5 separate regions of the Homo sapiens genome follow, and all the other regions are reported to be linked to region 1. Evidence: microRNA targets listed by miRTarBase, many of them from high-throughput screens and not tested one by one. Region 1 holds a microRNA gene; each other region holds the end of a gene's coding sequence. Distances are between the middles of the regions.
What was found. The annotated mature microRNA hsa-miR-3162-3p reads UCCCUACCCCUCCACUCCCCA and lies in region 1 at 2,517-2,537, shown strand. An mRNA with a match to its seed (bases 2 to 7 or 8) in the 3' UTR can be bound and repressed. Matches are read on the target gene's strand: a 7mer-m8 pairs with bases 2 to 8, a 7mer-A1 pairs with bases 2 to 7 and ends in A, and an 8mer does both.

Region 2: miRTarBase lists PALLD as a target of hsa-miR-3162-3p. Seed matches in the 3' UTR shown: 7mer-A1 at 1,469-1,475.
Region 3: miRTarBase lists ZBTB16 as a target of hsa-miR-3162-3p. Seed matches in the 3' UTR shown: 7mer-A1 at 1,260-1,266, 7mer-A1 at 1,086-1,092 and 7mer-A1 at 405-411.
Region 4: the mRNA of CHERP is a reported target of hsa-miR-3162-3p. Seed matches in the 3' UTR shown: 7mer-A1 at 1,319-1,325.
Region 5: the mRNA of HSPA2 is a reported target of hsa-miR-3162-3p. The part of its 3' UTR that is shown has no 7-base or 8-base seed match.

Annotation. Positions count from the first base shown.
Region 1 is chr11:59,593,624-59,597,623 of GRCh38, reverse strand. It overlaps MIR3162 (microRNA 3162), which reads left to right and starts at 2,466; the gene lies at 2,466-2,547. It overlaps OSBP (oxysterol binding protein), which reads left to right. Exons shown (of 14, transcript NM_002556.3): 8 at 3,369-3,614; 9 at 3,900-4,000.
Region 2 is chr4:168,924,535-168,928,683 of GRCh38, reverse strand. It overlaps PALLD (palladin, cytoskeletal associated protein), which reads right to left. Exons shown (of 22, transcript NM_001166108.2): 20 at 3,606-3,739; 21 at 3,406-3,451; 22 at 243-2,471. The coding sequence ends at 3,438. It also overlaps a transcript of CBR4 not described here. Among named protein-coding and RNA genes, the nearest start is that of CBR4, 84 kb to the left of the region's middle.
Region 3 is chr11:114,249,860-114,254,008 of GRCh38, reverse strand. It overlaps ZBTB16 (zinc finger and BTB domain containing 16), which reads right to left. Exons shown (of 7, transcript NM_006006.6): 7 at 1-3,683. The coding sequence ends at 3,454. Among named protein-coding and RNA genes, the nearest start is that of NNMT, 44 kb to the left of the region's middle.
Region 4 is chr19:16,515,859-16,520,007 of GRCh38, reverse strand. CHERP (calcium homeostasis endoplasmic reticulum protein) reads left to right here. Exons shown (of 17, transcript NM_006387.6): 16 at 293-387; 17 at 656-2,114. The coding sequence ends at 849. C19orf44 (chromosome 19 open reading frame 44) reads right to left here. Exons shown (of 9, transcript NM_032207.4): 8 at 2,667-2,778. The coding sequence ends at 2,707. Among named protein-coding and RNA genes, the nearest start is that of C19orf44, 22 kb to the right of the region's middle.
Region 5 is chr14:64,541,989-64,546,137 of GRCh38, reverse strand. HSPA2 (heat shock protein family A (Hsp70) member 2) reads right to left here. Exons shown (of 1, transcript NM_021979.4): 1 at 2,901-4,149. The coding sequence ends at 3,369. Among named protein-coding and RNA genes, the nearest start is that of HSPA2, 3.3 kb to the right of the region's middle.

The DNA.
Region 1 (4,000 bases):
AGGCTGCAGTGAGCCATGATCTCACCACTGCACTCCAGCCTGGGTGAGAGCAAGACCCTGTCTCAAAAGAAAAAAAGGTTGACCTTCAGATAAGAAAAGGCCATGAGTAGCCTTAGGATAAACCTAAAATAATAATTAGTTTATTGGGGGCTTGAAAAGAAACCCCACTTGTCTGGAGTATTAGGTGCCTTGAAGGGAGTAGTGGGAAAGTGGACTGGAAAGGCATGTCATTGCAGTCTCAGGAATGTAGTTCCTGCTTAGAAACAGCTTCTGGTGCCATGCGCGGTGGCCCACACCTGTAAAAAAATCCCAGCACTTTGGGAGGCTGAGGCAGGCGGATCACTTGAGGTCAGGAGTTCGAGACCAGCCTGGCCAACATCTCTCTAAAAATATAAAAATTAGCCGGGCATGTTGGCGCGCGTCTGTAATCCTAGCTGCTTGGGAGGCTGAGGCAGGAGAATTGCTTGAATCTGGGAGGCGGAGATTGCAGTGAGCCAAGATTGTGCCACTGCACTCCAGCCTGGGCAACAGAGTGAGACTCCATCTCAAAAAAAAGAAAGAAATAGCTTCTGGGTCTAGGTGACTTCTCTGTCCTCCTTTACCATTAGTTCCTTATTGATCTTGCCTTTAAGAATGTACAGTCCTGTACCTGTTTGCCCGCAGATCAAGTCCTCACCCTTCCCCTACTCTAGGCTGTAACACAGGAAAACTAATCCCTCTAGGAAGTGTTTTTTCAGGCTTCCGTGGCTACTGGAGTCTGGCTGGGCTTCACTAATGCAAGATACCAGTAGGAGGTTATAGCCGTGGGAAGTCTCTCCCTCTATGCCCTCTTGAGTGGTGCTCTGGCGCACCTACGTGGCTCTAGTTTTCACTGGAGAGGCCTCCCCTGCCTTGATGTTTTACATTCTCCTGATCCTCCTCTCTTGGACCCCCACCTCTAGGCTGTAGTAATACTGCTGCTTCTCCCCATCTCTCCACCCTACCAATGGTTATGGCTTCCTGTTGCTGCTAATCTCTGGGTTGTCTTTTTTTTTTTTGGGTGCCTAATTTTTCATCAGCTGTATAGCTCCCTGCTTCCTTCTACTTTAAATACTCAGACTCATTTCTTTCCCTGTTTGGCTTTTGAGTAATAAAATGACCATTATAAGAAGCTTGGCACTTTTGGAGAAACTGGTTGTTGATGGGCAAGGCTGTGTGTGTGTGAAAAGCAGTGATAGCAATGTGCTGATTCTAGTCCCATGCACTGCTGGTATGTCTAGTACCACCAGTGGAGTACACTGCCTGTCCCCAGTTTTCCTCAAAATGTATGGAAATGTTACTTCGTATTGTCTAAATTCTGCCACGGACAGATTTTATTGGGTGTAGTTAATAAGTGCCCTCTTTAAAAAGAATCGAGGATTATGGCTTTTGCAGCGCGCCACCCCTCAGTGTGCATTTGTGTCATCATACTGCTTGTCTTTCAGTGTAGGGAAGAGGGCTCTGGGGTATGGCACACTGTTTTGGTGGGTCCTATTTCTCAAAGGATGAGTGTTGTTGGCTCTGTGGCTCTGTGTTCACTGGAAAATGTTCACAGAGAAACATTTGGGATATTTCTCAGAGAAAAAGCAGGCTCTAGTTTATGAATTTTATTTATTTATTTATTTATTTATTTATTTATTTATTTATTTATTTATTTATTTTTAGACAGAGTCTCGCTCTGTTGCCCAGGCTGGAGTGCAGTGGCATGATCTTGGCTCACTGCAACTTCTGCTTCCTGGGCTCAAGCCATCATCCCACCTCAGCCTCCCAAGTAACTGAGACTACAGGTGCACGCCACCACACCGTGCTAATTTTTGTGTTTTTTTTTTATAGAGATGGTGTTTTGCCATGTTTCCCAGGCTGGTCTCAAACTGCTGAGCACAAGCAATCCGCTTGCCTCAGCCTCTCAAAGTGCTAGGATTGTAAGCATGAGCCACCACACGTGGCCAAGTTTATTACTTTTAAAAATGTATGAATGTATAGAAACAAACTGAAAATGTTAATAGTGGTGATCTCATTTCAAGAAAATTTTTTCCTTGATACTTTGTTTTCAAAGTTTTTTACAGTTAAAAATTATACGATATTAATTTCATGATTGAGCGGGCGGTGGGGGGATAGCAAATATTAGGGTAATATGTAGCTCAGAGATTGGTGGGTAGAAGGGTGAACAAAAATGCCAAAAGAGATGGAACATCAGAAAGAAAAGTGTTGTGTTTTTTTTGTTTGTTTAAGTAAAGCGTTGCTTAAGGCCAGAACCATTCACTAAAAGGGAATTTTTTCTTTCTTCTTTTGTTCTCTGGACTTAGAACTCAGGCTAATAATATTTAGACTTGTTCATCTATATTGTTAATTAAATAAGCTTTATGGACTAACTTGGGAACCTGACTTGTTTTATAGTGAATTTTTACATAGTAAAATCATTTAAAATTTCAAAGTTAATTTTGAAGCTGACTTTTTTAGGGAGTAGAAGGGTGGGGAGCATGAACAATGTTTCTCACTCCCTACCCCTCCACTCCCCAAAAAAGTCAGCTTCTCTTGTTAACTTCTCTCTATCCAGTGGGTAGCATAGGGTCTGGCACACATGGGTACTCAATAAATATTTGTGGAATGAGTAAGTGAATAAATGAATGAATGAACATCTCCCCCAACAGAAGCCCCCAATTCCTGGCACACACACATAAACACACACATGCTTGCTTTATCCAGTACTTGGTCGCCTTAAGCTGGCTTCAGAATTAGAAAGGTAAGAGCATGCACAGCCCCCTCTCAACCCCCATCATGAGCACTTCACTCCCAGAAACACAATTATCCAGCCTCAGAGGAGAAATCAGAATCCTGGCCTGATGCAGAACTGAACTGAGATTTAGCAATTGTTTTGTCCAGGGTGGAAACTAACTTTTATAACTAGTCAGGATATAGCTGTACTTATAATTTACTACTGTTTCTTTCATTCTCCAAGAATTTTAAATACCTGATTTCCTCTCTGGGTATACTTGTGCTAAAATACATTGCATTTCTTTTTTAAAAAACTTATTCATCCAACACCTATTTGATGATAGTCTTCTGTGGGCCAGTCACTGATGGATCTTGGGTATGTAGCACTCAACAGAAGAGGCATGGTTCCCATCTCAAAGAGCTTACAGTTAGTGAAATGAAAACAGTGATTTCTGCCACTCACAGACATGAACAGTTGACAAGGAGAATGGGTTGTTTGCGGGTTAAATATTAGAGCCGCTCTACTGAGCAAAGCCCTCTTTTCCCAGTGATTTATTTCCTAAACTGCAAAAAAAATTAAACTGTCTCTTATAGATGAGTGAGCATAGTTTTTATATCTGTTCTTCTCCTTACAGGTAAACTTTAATGAGCCCTTGTCCATGCTTCAGCGCCTTACTGAAGATCTGGAATACCATGAGCTGTTAGACCGAGCTGCAAAATGTGAGAATTCTCTAGAACAGCTCTGTTATGTTGCAGCTTTCACCGTGTCCTCCTACTCCACTACTGTCTTCCGCACCAGTAAGCCATTCAACCCACTGCTTGGGGAGACCTTTGAGCTGGACCGATTAGAGGAGAATGGGTACCGATCCCTCTGTGAACAGGTAAAGGAACCTCAGAACCATAACGCATTTCCTTTCTGAAGAAAGAGATGATTTTTTGGTTAATCCCCTGGGTCTTATGTTTGCAGAAATTCTAGTCCCTGTCATCCCAGCTTTTATTCTTTTTCTTCAGAACGTCAGCGTTGGAGACCCTGGAGGTTCTGGGATTCACCTACTGTTGTGGGTGTAAAAACGTCAAGTGTGAATTTTGGTGTTTCTCACCAATTTATAGGCAGTATCTTTTTCTTCTCCTTTCTGCCGTCTTAATTTGAACCTGATTTCTTCAAGGTGAGTCATCATCCCCCTGCTGCTGCGCACCATGCTGAGTCCAAAAATGGCTGGACATTGCGTCAGGAAATCAAAATCACCAGCAAGTTTCGAGGCAAATA
Region 2 (4,149 bases), not on the chromosome of region 1:
GCACAGAGCTATCACAACCACTTGAATTTTGAAGAGGATCTTGAGCTCCAGATGAGAATACAGTCCAGCTGATACAATGATTTTAGCTTTATAAGATCCTGAACAGAGAACCCAGCTACATCCTGCCCGAACTTGATTTACAGAACTGTGAGTAATAAATGAGTGATGCTGAAGCCTCAAACATCACTCAAAGTTTATGCTAATTGTTATGGCAGCAACAGAAAACTAAAACTGAATATTTATTTTGCTTCACAAAACTGCAACTATTATTTGTCAAATATTTATTGATGTTAAATCCACATTACACCAGCACAACAATCCAAAGTAGTATGATTGATTGATAGTACTTTTTTTTTTATAAATACAATATAAAGGTGGCAAAATAATGCTAGTTAATCCCAAACCCAGCAAATCAGCAAAAAAAGGTCACATTCAGAAAAATTTGGCAAGTAAGACATAAGTCATAATTCTACAATAGAGATAGGTCCATGAGAGACTGTGTATGGTATCTTAAATTCCATATTAGCAATGCATATAAGTGCGGTCAAAGAAACTTGAACCACACTGCATAGAACATCTGCCACCCGGTGCTCAAGCCTATTAATCACTTAAACCTTGGTTGGTTGGTGTTCTTACAAAGAAGTAGAAAGCTGTACATGTGAAACAGTAATATGAAATATATGGGGTGGTACACAGATATAAAATTATTTTAAAAAATACTACGTATGAATTGAGTAACTGAGCTAAGAGAGGCCACTTATAAATAATGAAAGATACATGTGTTTTGCATAAGGAATACAGTGTTTTCTTTTCATAGCAAAGTACCATTAAAGCCTCATGTTTTATACTACTAGGTCAAATTATTTTTTCTCCTTTTTAAAATTTATCGGTTCCGACTTAAAACCATCAAGTCTGGTCAGAATCAACTCAGTCTAGCTGATGCAAAATCATATGCATTCAAAAAGCAGTCTTTACCGAGATGCCTTTACAAACCTTGGAATCCAGCACCTTCTTAAGGCAAAGTTTCATGGCAGCAGGGAAGTGAACTAATAATTTTCATTTACCACATCTTGGTGTCTTTGAAAAAATACTTTATGGCACAAACCTGTTTTTGTCTCTCCTTATGTCTCCACTTCCTTCAAGTAGACTAGATGCTACAGGCAATTTCTCATTTATGCCACCATGCAGTCTCAATCCATTTTCAACTTGCTCTACATACCTAAAATCTTCCACTACTACACAAACCTCAGACACACTGCAATCTCCACAGCATGTGTGCTCCACAGCATGTGTGCTCCACACTTCCAGCTGGCCCTGGGTTCCTTGACTTGTGAATGGCAGTGTTTTTTTCACCTATGTTTGAAGAAAACCAAAGAAAAGCCTGGCCTTTGCTACCTCTCCTGTGCCTTCTACTTTTATCTAAATGAACACACTATAATCATGCTGGTTGCATTTTCCTTCATTCTCCTCCCTACTCCTTCCAAACCCCTGATTCCTCCAAATACTATATATGCCTTGGTCATTTGGGTGGTTTGGATGCTTTCTGTGGAATGAACTGTAATATATTTCTGCTTTATTCAGAGCACTTTATATTATTTATATTTAAATTAGCCTTTTAATATGGTTTGTAAATAAGTTTCCTACCAAGGTAGCATGAAAACACTACACATAAAGAAAAAAAATGTTAAGAACTAAGGTATTAACCTTGTTAGAAAACTCTTTTGATATTAACATTTAAGGCAAGTAGTTCCTTCCTTATGATTTAATATAAAAACATTTGCAAAGACAAGGCATTTACTTGGATTTCTTTGTCATCTCTTCTTCTTTCATCCTTACATATTGCACTTGGTTCACTGTATCTGTCTGAATACACTGTGCTTCAGAATCATTGTAGTACTGTTTGTGGTACAACTCCCTCATTAAACATTTCACACTATCAGGCTACACAGCACCTATATCTTGTGTTTAAAGGCACTTGTAGATAATACAAATTGTAGTTACCTGTGAACAATTGATTTCCTTTAGTATTTTGGCATTTTGATCACTTTAATCACAGCAATTCCAAAGTTTTAAATTGGACAGTAAATGTGTATTTTCTGTGCAATGTGTATATTTGTATTAGCATTATCTACTTAAACTAAGTTTGGTATATCAAGTAAGAAAAATATTATTTTGGTGTTTTTTTTTTAATTTCTTATAGTCAAAGGTATGTTTCTGCCTTTTACATAATGTGACAAAGGAATATGTTGGTCAAGGCAATGGCTGTTTCAGTGTTTCAGCTTTAACAAGAATGCTGGATTACAGGTCCTCACTTTCTACCAAGGCAGTATTCAGTGTCAGGTGAGATGGGTTGGCCTCAGGTTGGAACGCTGCTTTGATGTCTAGTCCCTGGTCCGAAAGTGCTGCATAGCGACTGGCTGAGGGCCGTACTTTTTTTGGCTTGGTGCTCTGTGACTGCTGATGCCACTGGGCTACAAAGAAAAAGAGTAAATTAAGATTTTTAATCAAGATATACTTGGAAAGCCTTTAGATATTTCAAATAAATACAGAATGTCTAGATAGATGCAAGGCACCTGAACACATCCATGGTAGAAACATGGAAAATTTAGGAACACTTTTGCATTTTACTCACATGTTGCAGATTTACTGTCTATACAGGATAGTGGGAATAAAGCAGCTAGATTACAAAGGTCAAGTGTAGTTTATCTTTTTTTTTTTTAAGTAAACACTGCAGCACAGGGAATCCTTTGGAATAGCTGATAAGCTTCCTAATTCTCATCCCCCCTCTCCTTTTAAAAAATATTTTCTCTAAAATAATTATAGCACTTAGGAATTCTGCTGGATGTGGATGCTTTAACACTAATCAACTGAAAGGAATCGTACAGTAGGGAAGGTTGAGGCCACACATTTCTTGATGACCCTCACATAGTTATTTCAAGAAGAGGCAAAATCTGAAATAAATTCTTAAATAAATTCTTAATTTTTTTCTAGTGTTTTTTTTATGTCAATGGATAACATAATGCTGATTGTACTAGACTGTAAATTCAATAGGAATAATTTTCTTTAAATTTGGGATGCATGTACACAAATATACAAACACAAGTCTACTGCTGGCTGCTTAAGATATATTAATGAGAAAAGCACTAAGCCACAAAAGTACGCATTCCAGGATCAATGGAACACACGTTTAGAGTGCATTAGGACACTGCGATAGAATATAGGAAGAAATGTTAAAAGGCAGTCATTTGCAGAACACAGTAACAAGAACATGTGAAAAACATGGTTATGCCTTTGCCTACTGTTAACTCCTAAGGATGCTTGAGTAAGGAAGCCACAACTAACTAGCCAATGTAAGAGAAATCAACATGCATATTTTGCTAATAATTCAAAGTTCCTGAATGATACTTGGGTATTTGTTCTCCTGGTGTGGTTCACTATTAATGTCGAGAAACTACAAATAGAAAGAGAGAGAGAGCAATATGAATTTTTTTGACAAATAAAACACAATAGTTGTTTATAAAGAGTAATGTGATTTGCTGTCCAGATGTCTAATTTTTCATAATTTAATGAGTAAACGCAATGAAATGAGATGAAGTGGCACTCACTGTAAACGTCCAGCCTGGCAGTACAGGACACAATCCCTGCTTCATTCTTGGCTGACACAGTATACCACCCAGCATCTTCTTTTGTGGCTCCCTGAATGAGCAGGCAGATGTAGCCGTGGTTGTCCTGGTGCATGCTGGAGAAAAGGATAAAGTCATTAGGGTTCTAAATTTTTTAAAAGTGGCTTTGGACATGAAGCATCATTTTTAATTAGATCATTAGAAACAGAATTGTGCAAGTAGCTGATAATAGGGTCATACTTATTCTGTAGAGATTACTAGCTCCATTAAAGTTAATGGGAGAAAGAACAGACGTCAAGAGTTGAATACATCTGTGTGCTTAATTCCTAGTTGAGGATCTGCCTTTACAAAAACCACTGAATAGTCTTTTATCACTAAAGCAAATGAATTCATCTTTTCTTTTAGATAGAATGATAAACACTTTTAAGAAATCACCATTAGATCAAACACCCATAGCTTCCTTCTAAAAGCTTAATCCTACATTGGGTAACGCATGGTTTTTGTCTTTGATTGATTTCATCAAAAA
Region 3 (4,149 bases), 55 Mb from region 1:
CAGGCTGGAGAAGTTTTTCACTGTGCTGGATAAGGCAGTAGCAAGCAGGGTTGTCAGCAGTACCACAGCTAAAGGCAGCCAGGGGGCCGAAGGAGTCAGGTGGCATGAAGAAGAGGGGAGGACAGATATTCAGATCCCACCTGGGGAGAGACCCCTGTCTACCCTCCTCCTCTCCCCTTAACTCCAGACACATATAAAGCCTCCAGACAGCCTCTTAGCTTGCCCCCTGGCCACTAGGCCGTGCAACATTAGAACTGTTCTGTTGTTGTAGGTAGGAAGTTGGAGAAGAGGCATGTTAGACTCTATTCAGGTGTCTTCATGGGGAGAGGAAGGTACAGTAAGTTCAGAGGTGTCCCCAGACAGTAGCCCTCAGAAACCACACTCCCCTGAGCTCTCCCCATACCTCCCTACTGGGGTCTGCAGGGCCCACGGGGTTGGGTGGGGCATCCAGGTGCTGATTTAGTACCATCCATTGCTGCAACACCAGATTACGACAATACTGCATGATTTAACACACAACCACACACACAAAGCACACGCGCACACGCACATACATGTACAAAGGGATATTTTGGTGGTGGTGGATTTTTTTTTGTCTTTTGTCTTCCTATTCACATTACAAAAGGAAAGGGCAAGGTTCTGCAGAACTGACGAAGGAACTAACAGATACTACAAAAATATTACAATTTGTGAAGATTAGCTCAACCCTCTCAGCTTTTATGAATGGAGCGGGGAGGGGCCCAGGCTGAGTGGGAAGGGCATGGGAGTGAGGGGGCCAGCTAGTTCTATGGAATAGTTTGATTTTTTTCTCTTCCTTCCCCACCAATGTTGAATGACATCTTGCTGTTAAAAATACTGTTTTCTGGGATTTACAGATCCCCTGAGGGCCAGCCAGTCCCCGCTTCTTCCCAGACCAGAGGAGGAAGCCATAGTGCATAATGATTTCTTACAGACGGCCCCTCCCCCAAATGATTTCACCCTTTTCACATTATAAACATGACAACTGTTCTAGTCACGTATTTCAAGTTTAACTTCTTTTCCTTTCCAAAACACTAAGTCGTTACTATAGTTGCAAAATAGCATCCTCCCTACTTTACCATCCCTAATCCACAGTCTAGTGACACCGTCCTCCCAATTCACATCCTCCCAACACACAATTTTAAGGCCTTCAGATTTGGTGGATGAGATTGAAGGGGAGGGCAGGAGGGCTGGGGCCGAGGGACGGGGGGGTCGTCGCAGCAGCACCCATCCCTCCGGCTTCCCTACATTCCTCGTGATCCTTCTCCCCAAAACCGCTTCCCTAAACCACTTTGTAAAACCTAAGATCAAAACGCAGCCACAACTTTCTCAGAGAGAGAAAGGAAAGAAAAAATAATAATAAAAAACTCTTACACATAAAGCATGAGATGAAACGGAGGGTCCGTCCCAAAGCAAACACGAATATTGCAAATGTGCTTTCCAAAATTCAGGAGGGTCGGGGGAGGTTGGGGAAAAGAGGGAGGAAGAGCAGCAGAATGGGAGGCGGGAAAGGAACAAAAGAACAACTGGACAAACATAAGAGGTAGCTTTTAGAAAAACAACACCCCCACCCCAACACAACAAAACAAAGGCTGGATCCCGCCCCCCTCCCCAAAGACCAGCCGTGAAAATAGACCAATTCTGGCAATGAGAATGCACGCACAGAGGTGAGACCACACAGTTGCAAGGATCCAAACACAGGCCCTCAAACCTCAATGGCCCAGCAAATTGTAAGAAAGGTGGGATTCTCTCCAGAGTGTTTTAGGCGGAACGGATGGTGGCCACAGGTGACTTCATGCACCAGCGGAGCCAAAAGTGACTCCCTAGTGCCCTCTGGGGACCATGAGACCCCAAAGCAACATCCCCTCCCCACCCACGCTCTTCGCCCTCCTCGGCCCTCACATTCAGATCCTGAGTATCAACTCCTCCTGCACAGTTCCTGCCAGCTGGGAGGCTGGTCTCCAGGGGCACGGGGAGGGTCTTGACCAGCTGAAGTCTATAAAAACAACTATTAATTTACACAAGAAACAGAAAAGAACACCCTCCCCATTCCTCCAAGCCCCAACCGAAAAAGAGATACAGAGGTTAAGAAAGCTCATGAGGTCACAAAAAACTGAGGTAATTCAAGTACAATGTGCTAACAGGGGACACAGAAAAGAAGCAAAACATAACACAAGGCCAAAGCGCTTTCAAATCCTCCTCCTCCTGCAGCTCCTCCCCCTCCTTCTGCTCCTCCTCCTCCTCCTCTCCACTGTGGACCGAGGGGCGCTGTGAGTCAGGAATTCTGTGCGACTCTCTCTGGACCTGGCTTTTCTTGCTGAGCTCACTACATCTGGGGTCCCCAGTGTGACTCAACAACTTTCTCCCTTGCCCAGCTTCCCTCATCCCACGGGCTGGGTGTCCTCTTTTCCAGGTGTGGGACCCCTCTAGAGAAAGACATCCACAACCTACCCTCGGAACCTCAGCCCATTCATGGATTCCTTCTCCTGGGACTGAAGTAGGGCTACGTAGGGACTGTGGTTTGTTTGGTAGGATATTAGGTATTTAGTTGTGATGCTTTTCCATTTTGGAAGCAGCGCAGCAGGAATCTTGCTCACGATGGTGCTGGACTAGGGTGGGGTATTGGATTTGTTTTGTGTTCTCAGAAGGCTGAGGGTAGGAGGGACCCTGAAGTCAGAGGCAGCTATCCCACTAGGGAACCGGAGAAGGATGGAGACACCGCCAGGTCCCTGAGGGGCTGGGACTCCCCTGGGACTTGGAGGACAGGAGTCAAGGGGAGGCTGGGAACAAAGAGCTGGAGGAGGGGCAGGGGTCCTGAGGCTCTCAGAGACCACCGGGGGACACCCAGATGTGGCAAAGCAGAGGAAAGCAGCAGGTGGGCTGAGTGGTGGGAAGAGAAACAGAGCCCTTCTCCTCCCCAGTCAGCCGCCAGCAAACTAGAGCTGCCATTTTGAGCAGCTAGTGACCCAGCCCAGACCCATCAGCAGGGGAGCGCCCTTCTGGCTCACCTCCTCCCTCCCTTCATCTCCTGGGGGTCTTGGTGGAGGAAGGCCGGCACAGACCGTGTGGCTCTGACCAGAGGACCTCTCACCTGCTTTCTAGCCTCCATTTCTGGACACATAAAAGAAGGTCTGGGTGAAGGAAGGAGAAAAATGTGCCACCATTTGAGTGAACAAAATACCCAACCCCATCCCAGAAAATCAGGCAAACCTCCAGCCGGGAGAGGAGGGTGGAGGCCCCCAGAGGAGGGGCAGTGGCTTGGCATCCAGGTCATCTGGAGCCCAGAGAGAATCCAAGGCCAAAAAGCTACCAGGTTTCCTTTTCCTTCTGTTTTTTTTTTTCTTTTCCTTTTTTATTTGTCATAGTCCTTCCTTCATCTCACTCCAACTCTTCTTTCCTGGCTCCCCGCTCGGCTCCACCGCCGCGGGCCTCCCTTCACACATAGCACAGGTAGAGGTACGTCTTCTCTATCCTCCAGTCGGGCGGGATCTCCTCGGGCTTGTGGCCCTTCATGTGCTTCTGCATGGAGGAGAGGCTGGGGCAGTACTCTGTGCAGATGGTGCACTGGTAGGGCGAGGCGCCGTTGTGCGTTCTCAGGTGCTTGATCATGGCCGAGTAGTCCCGGGAGCGCTGGTGGCAGAGCTTACACTCAAAGGGCTTCTCACCTGAGGGCGGAGGGACAGGGCAGGAGAAAGTGAGGACAGACAGAAGGCGGTGAGGGCACCATGTCACCCTCAGGCGTGCCAGGGAAGCTGGGTTCCTCCAGCTGGGCTTGCTCCAACAGAACTTTCTGGGACAATGAAGGCACCACCCAAGACGGCAGCCACCAGTCACACATGGCTATGAATGAGGCTGGTGCGACTGCAGCTCTACAGTTTTCTAATTTTATTTCATTGTAACTAATTTAAATAGCTACATGTAGCTAGTTGACTACTGGATTGCCCAGCTCCTTGTCTTACTATTCTTAACTCTCCCAAGGCCACAGTCTTTTCCCTTTCTAATTAAGAAAATGGGTGTCTAGAAAGAGAAAGGCCCCAAAGTCCTCAGGAATGGCTCTTCAAGCCACAGTTCCGTCCAGAGAGCAGGTGGATCGAGACCTTTCAGGGCTACAGATGGTGGGGAGCAGGGGTG
Region 4 (4,149 bases), not on the chromosome of region 1:
CACCACAGTAGCCACTTGGCGAAGCCTGAGGCAGTAACTGGGGTCTGCTTTCTAACCACCATCTGGGTTGGAGGTGTCCTGCTCTCAATGCTGAGCGTGGGGTGGGGGCCAGCGTCTGGAGCCCCCTTATCTAGCTGAGACAGGATAAACGGGTAGAGACGCAAAATCTGCATACGGTGTCACCTGGTGACAGTGAGCATGCACGCAAGCTGCGGCTGTGAGGTCCTCATCACTGTCATTCCAATAAATGTCTCAGTTACTTCTTAAAAAGAATAACCTGTCTCGATTTTAGTTCCTCTGCTGGTCTGGGTTCTAATTCGGCGCCTCCCATCCCTGACTCAAGGCTCGGAGAAGAGAACAAAGGCCATCAGATGCTGGTGAAGATGGGTAAGGCGAGGGAATGGGGAGGGCGCGGGATGGGTCCTCACGCGTGCTGGGCCCGGGAGTCACCAGCGCTTTCTCTTCCTCAGTGCATGTGGGGATGGATGGAGTCAGGCCGGTTCTGACTCCACCCAGACCCTCTAGACAGGGCCGGCCTGCGGGTTCTCTCTACCCATTTCCCATGTCTACACTGCCTGTCTGGACATTCAGCCCCCCACGTGCACCCCCATCTGCCTCCGCCTTGTTGTGGTTGTGACTGCGTCTCTGTTTCCAGGCTGGAGCGGCTCAGGCGGCCTCGGTGCGAAGGAGCAAGGGATCCAGGACCCCATCAAGGGCGGGGACGTCCGGGATAAGTGGGACCAGTATAAAGGCGTGGGCGTGGCTCTGGATGACCCCTATGAGAACTACCGCAGGAACAAGAGCTACTCCTTCATCGCCCGCATGAAGGCCAGGGACGAGTGTAAGTAGGCGCCCATGCCGGGAGCCGCGCCGGTGGCCAGCGGTGCCGGCTGTGGGACCTTCCTGGCTGACTGGCAGAGGAAGATTGCAGTGACAGCTCAGTTCTTACACCGTCTCCACTTGTGGAGAGCCACAGGAAGAGAAGGAAGACCAGCGCATGCCCAGTGGGAACGCCGTGCTCCATGGCGTGGAGGGCACGGGTGCCACCCACAAACCACACCAGGAGGCGCTGCAGCCACCAGGGCCCCAGGCTCGTTTTCCTTTATAGCGAAGCAAAAAACACAAGACCCTCCGCCCGAGTAAATTCTTCAGCCACGAAGGGATGGATGTGCATCTGCCCTAAGTCAGATTGAAGCCTCCTCCTAGGCTCCAGGAGGAGCATGTGCAGGAAGGGTTGGCCTGAGCCAGAGCCGGCACCCCAGCTCCTTCCTCCAGCTCCCCGCACCCACCGGCCCTGACCTGGCTTCCCCTCGGCTGTGTAGGGACAAAGCCGAAGCCCAGTGCCATGACTGCCCGCGGATTGAAAAACAGAAACACAAAACTTTGACTTGACTTGCGAAGTGAAGCAGGGTTTTCATTTTTACTCTCCTTGGTTTAGGTCTAGAAAGAAGAATACTGACCTGAGAGGAGGCCCAGTGAGATTCTGAAACCTAATTCTTCGAAGGCGTACTGGCCCTTAGTTCAGTTATTTTAGTTGTATAAGTTGATATTTTTTTTCTGGAATGTAGCCATTTGCTGTTATCTGGGAAACAAGATTCTAACAGGAAACCAGCCTAAGACACTTCAGGTTGAGCGCTGCCTCGGAGTCTGTGCCCGTCGCGTCCCCTGCTTGAGTTTTGCACTTGGAAGAACCCTGCACCGGCTGGCGTGTGCGACGGCCCAGTCCCATCCAGAGCATGGAGCCCGACCCCAGCCAGCGCCTTCCACTCCATCATTTCATTTCACACCCCCGAAGGGAGGGGAGGCCAGGAGGGGAGCTGCTCCTGCCAGAAGCTGGTGGGTGACCGTTGGGAATCGGCCACACCTGGTGTCCATGGGCAGCCTGGTGCAATTCCATTCATTTGTACAGAAACATTTTTGAAAAATTCTTTTCAATAAGATGCAAAATCTTCCAACTTTTCAACCCAACGTGATGAATATTTGATTTTGTTCTAGATTTCCTGTAGCTGTGAATTGTTAAAATGTATGATTCAGGATAAAACGTAAACACGTGCTGTTAGTAATTTCTTGTGGATTTCATTGTTTTGCCTTCAAATAAAGCCTTTTTTTAAAGACCTTTCTCCCGCACATGTGTAAGTCAGAAGTGTGCACGGGCTGAGTGAGGAGACACATGTCCTGGTTTGAGCTGTGCAGCCTGGGGTCAGAGGCCGTGTCCAGGGGCTCACATGGCGTCCCCAGCGTGCTGACCTGGTCCCATGTCCTTACCCTCGAGCAGGGCTTCTCCCATCCACCCTGTCTCCCTCTGGCTCACTGGGATGCCAGGACCTGCCTGGGTGGAGCTGCTCTGCAGAGGCTGGTGGCCCCTGTCCTGCTGTGAGTGGGGACAGCTCCACTGAAATTCTATTTCCACTGGCCTGTGGTGTCATAGAGCTGGGCATGCTGCTGGGAGAGCTGTCACTGAGCTGGGATTTGGCTCAGAGGAGTCTGGGGCCCTCACCGCAGCACCACCTGCCCCACCATGGAATGTCACACCTGGATGCTGACTGTGTGTGTGTGTGTCCATCACCCCAGTACCACCTGCCCCCACCACGGAACGTCACACTTGGACACTGATGAGCTCTATGTTTGTGTGCGTGTGTGTGCACTGAGTACACAGGACGGGATACCTTTTGTTAAGACGTCACGTCAAGCTCCACCTGCTGGCGCTCACAGCTCCTTGTTCACCTCCTCCAGGGCATCCTCCATGGTCAGTGGGGCAGGTCTGTGGCACCTAATGTACTGTCAGGCAGAGAACAGACCACGCCATCACCATCGTCACCTCAGTACACTCTGAGACAGGGTGCTGGAGGAGGGAGTGGAGCCAGCACCTGTCCCCAGCAGGCTCCTGTCAGTGACAGAAGTGTAAAACCACAGGATGTGTGTGACAGGTTGGCGCACGGGGCTGTGGGAACACAGGGTAGAGGGTCAGCCCTGCGAGGGGTGAGCCCTGACAGAGAAAGGGAGGGGTGCCTGTGAGTGCCCTTGGAGTGGCTGAGATCAGGGAGAAGCGCCTGGAGCAAGCAGCTGGGAGCTATGGTGGGCTGCAGCCAGGTGGCACAGTCAGATGGCTTCTGCCTGCATCGGATGGGCTGATGGACGCCCAACAGAGGCATGAGTTCAAAGCCCCCAGAGGGCTGCAATGAGCAAAGTTGACATTGTAGAGACCCGTGGGACTCACAACCTGCCCTCTTCAGCAGATAAACCACAAGGAAACGAGAGGCCTGGCATGCAGGGGACTCGGCACAGTTCCAAAGCAGCGTCCCGGGGCATGTGGGAGAAACGCCTAGCTCCAGGCCCACCCCGCCTGCTTGCGGGCCCAGCATCGCTTTCACAGGGCTTCCAGGGGATCCCCAACCGCTCAGCATTGAGAACCGGTCGCTGCTCTAGATTAAGAGGCTCAAAGGACATATCGGATAGTATGGACTTTGGATCCGAATTACCAAATCGGAACAAAACACACAACTTTAAATCAGACAAGCAGAAATCTCAACACTGGATATTCCTTGATACTTAGTAAATTTGGTTTGTGTATTATTGCATTATGGTTGTTTGTTTGAGACAGAGTCCCGCTTTCTCCCTCACTACAGCCTCAACCTCCCCAGCTCAAGTGATCCTCCCACCTCAGCCTCCCAGAGAGCTGGGACTACGGGCACACACCACTATGCTAAACTTAAACTAGTTTTCTTGTATTTTTTAATAGAGATGGAGTCTTGCTATGTTGCCCAGGCTGGTCATGAACTCCTGGGCTCAAGCGACCCACCCTGCCTCAGCTTCCCAAAGTGCTGGGATTACAGGAATGAACCACCACACCTGGCTTTAACATCACTTTTTAGAAATAAACACTGAAAAATTTGTTATGTAAAATGTTTAAAGCAGGGGGCGGTGGCTCACGCCTATAATCCCAGCACTTTGGGAGGCCGAGGCAGGTGGATCACCTGTGGTCGGGAGTTCAAGACCAGCCTGACCAACATGGAGAAACCCTGTCTCTACTAAAGATATGAAAAATTAGCTGGGCATGGTGGTTCGCACCTGTAATCACAGCTACTCAGGAAGGTGAGGTAAGAGAATCACTTGAACCCAGGAGGCGGAGGTTGCAGTGAGCTGAGATTG
Region 5 (4,149 bases), not on the chromosome of region 1:
TATACATTACACAATTGAATATTCCTGCTTCTGAATCCAAACATATATATTCCCTTAACAGTTGAGACATACGGATGTGAGATATTTTTAAACTTCAATTTAAATCGTGTTCAAAAGCAAGAGGAGCATGCCTCACAACACAACCTTTATAAACTACATTCAGTTAAAAGTAAGAATATGTTATAGGTCCACTATTGGAAAATCATAAAAATAGATTTTCTGATTTCATCTAGATAGCCAGGTTGTATTACTGTTTAAGATTATACATAAAAAAGAAATACTCATTAAGTCTCCATTACATATTGAATGGGTAACATAATATTACACATACATGTTAAATTAACAGTTGTAAATTGTACTAAGATCTCCTAATGTACAAGTTTTAATGCATTTTCATTATACATATCAAATCAATACTATAAAAAATTTAAAGTGAGTTTGTTTTGAAATTTCACACATCTCAAATACTGTAAACAACTAGTTATGTCTTCGTTTGACAGGTGTCTATATTTGTTCCCTCAAAACAGGGACAACTATGTTAATCAAACATTCAGATAAGAATTTCAGGTAAGTGGGCTGGCGCGTGGCTCACGCCTGTAATCCCAGCACTTGGGGAGGCCAAGGCGGGCGGATCACCTGAGGTCGGGAGTTCCAGACCAGCCTGACAAACATGGAGAAACCCCATCTCTACTAAAAATACAAAATTAGCCAGGTGTGGTGGTGCATGCCTGTAATCCCAGCTACTCGGTAGGCTGAGGCAGGAGAATCGCTTGAACCCAGGAGGCGGAGGTTGAAGTGAGCCGAGATCAAGCCATTGCACTCCAGCCTGGGCAACAAGAGTGAAATTCCGTCTCAAAAAAAAAAAAAAAAAAAGAATTTCAGATAAGTGCCTGTCGGAGAATCCTTAAACTGTAATTTAGCCCCATCCTAACATCAAGTACTTTTTCCACTGTTATTTGACTATGGCTGATCTAACATCTGCTAAGGAGTTCCCAGGAGTTATCAGGTTACAAGTTTCAACTGACCCCTGGAAAGTGAATGGCTACTTTGGTGGCTTTATCTTGGTAATATGCAAATCTTGGTAAATTTGAAAAGAGAGAATTAAATAAGAAACACTCTCAAGAATGCTCAAGAATGTAAAACTCAAGAATTTGAGTTTTACAAATTACTTTTCAAAATAGAAAATGAAGTATCTGCCCAGATTGATGTTAGTATTATAGCAAGCTACCGGAGGTCAGGCCGTAGGATCAAAAACTACCAATGGTCATTTTCTGATACTTTAGAAACTAATCTCTTAAGTGAGGTCTAAAATGAGTCATACCAAACTGCATTTACAGAAGGACTCCATTATATTTTGAAGTTAGAGCAAGGAATGAACACTTTCAACAAATAAAGGACTAATAAAAGGGTAACAGAATGGGTATTATCTTGGTAAAACTCACAGTAAACGTCACTCTAAAGCTACAATTAACCTGATTTTGTAGTACCATAGTAGTTTGTCACATATTTATGCCTGTAGTCCATGAAACACCCTTAAATGCTCATTGCTGAAAAATTTCCACCAATGTGACACCAGCACTGATAAATTGGAGTTATCTTTAGCTTTTCAGAGTATAAAAAGCAGTTTCCTTTAAAAAAAAAAAAAGGTTTTTATGTTGAAGCAATTTCACTGTTGGCTATTTATCTTCCTCCCCCCTACCCAAATGAGGCTTGCTAAAAAGGAAAAAAAAAAAAACACCTTATGTGTACTTAAGAGTCAACTCTTGTATGAAAGGGTCATTACCAAAGGCCAGTATTCTTAGGCTAACTTCTTAGCTAGTTTTAAAATTATTACTCATTCCATTATTCATAAAATTAATCTCTCTGAATGACACAGATGGGTCCACTACTAAATTGAAGATAAAGCTTTCATAACTATTGTCTTATGAGCAGCATGAAGCAAACCTGCATCATGTGGAAAGATATCAAAACGTCTATGTGCAGTAAAAACATTAGGTTAACTATGCATTTTCCTATTGGTTTTACTGAATTTCTCTCAAGTTCTCCTTAAAGAGAGTAAGAAAAGAGTAGTCATGTCATTTCACTAAAAAATAAAAATGAATTCCTTTCTCTGAAGGATGTGAATTTTAAAGATTAAGTCCAGGATAGTGGATCACCAAAGGGTTGCAATATTCTTATCTATAACAATCTCAAATTGGATATGGAGGAAAATGGACAAGTTGTATATTAACAAAATACAAGACTATCTAGTACAGTTTGCCTTTTAAAAAAGAAATCTATCGTAGTGATTTAAGGCAAGTATTGCAAAAACGTTATGATCCCCAAACCAGAAAAAAATAATAATAATTATGTTTCCCTACCCAAGTAATTCTAACTGCGGGAAACATGTTATTAGAATTTGCCATAAGCTCAGAAGTTGAGCTGTTTTACTAGAAAATTAAACAAGTTTGACTAAATTTATACTCACTATTAAGTCACTTGAAAGCTTGCCTGCTGTCTCTTGTTTCAGGCTCCTGTATGTCACAAAATTAATTTGTTTCCATATTTCCTTTGGCAATTATAAGACAACTTCTGCCCAGCTTTTGTTAAAGGCTCATTTTACATTTAACCCCAGAATATAGCTCATATTTTCCTGGAATATTCAGGTGAATTTTCATTTGGACACTTAAGTTGTAGGAGTGTGAGTACACTAGGAAGACCCCAAGTCAGGTTTCTGTATTTAAGGGTGGGTGAAGTTTACCCAGATTCTTCTCCCCTTAAGTTGTTGGAATTCAAGGCAGCACCCTCATCTGGGAATTAAACAAGATTGGTTAGATAAATTTCACATCATACTAACATCTTAAAAGACGAATATGGGTAAAATATAAAGGAAGGAAAATTGAAAACTCCAAGACAGTAACTTTGAGATCAATTTCAGCTTTACTTTACATTTGCATTTATGCATTTGTTTGCAAAAAGTATACCTGTCCTTAACATTACTGCAATGTTCAGTTTAGTTTTAAAGTAGTACATAAAAATAAACAATTTAAGCTCCTATATATTTTACTGTTTCCAAGCTTCTACAGAACAGGTGTGCAAACTTAAGGTTTCTCATCTCAAACAAATCTCCATGCACGAACTAATCAAAAATGCTCAAGTCAGCAAACACGCAAAATGCATTAAAGAGAAACCTCGAATAATGTTTTTAAAAAACAAACTTTGGAACTTTTATAATTAAACTAAGTTGTTGCACCTCTCCTTTCATTTGCATATACCAAAGACTTCCAACAATAGATCTCGTACTTGGCACAAGGACATTTCAAAGAAACAAACAAAAAAAAAGAGAGAGAGAGAAAGGCAAAGAGGTTTACGCTGACTTGAGTGCAAGCTTAGTCCACTTCTTCGATGGTGGGTCCCCCGGAGGCTCCTGAACCGCCGCCGCCGCTGCCGCCGCCAGGACCACCTTGGTAAAGTTTGCTGATGATGGGGTTGCAAACTCTTTCGAGCTCTTTCTGCTTGTGTTCATACTCATCTTTCTCTGCCATCTGGTTTCGGTCGAGCCAGTTGATCACCTCCTGACACTTGTCGAGGATCTTGTTTTTGTCCTGCTCGCTAATCTTGCCCCTCAGTTTCTCGTCTTCCACCGTCTGCTTGATGTTGTAGGTATAGGACTCCAGGGCGTTTTTGGCCGCGACTCGGTCGCGATTCGCCTCATCTTCCGATTTGTACCGCTCCGCCTCCTGCACCATCCGGTCAATGTCGTCCTTGCTCAGACGACCTTTGTCATTGGTGATGGTGATTTTGTTTTCCTTACCGGTGCTCTTGTCGGCGGCGGTAACGTTAAGGATGCCATTGGCGTCAATGTCGAAGGTAACCTCGATTTGGGGGACCCCGCGAGGCGCAGGGGGAATCCCGGTCAGGTCGAACTTGCCCAGCAGGTTATTGTCCTTGGTCATGGCCCGTTCGCCCTCGTATACCTGCACCAGTACGCTGCTCTGGTTGTCCGAGTAGGTGGTGAAGGTCTGCGTCTGCTTGGTGGGGATCGTGGTGTTCCTCTTGATGAGTGGGGTCATGACACCGCCAGCTGTCTCGATGCCCAGCGACAACGGGGTCACGTCGAGTAGCAGCAGGTCCTGCACATTCTCTGATTTGTCGCCGATGAGGATGGCC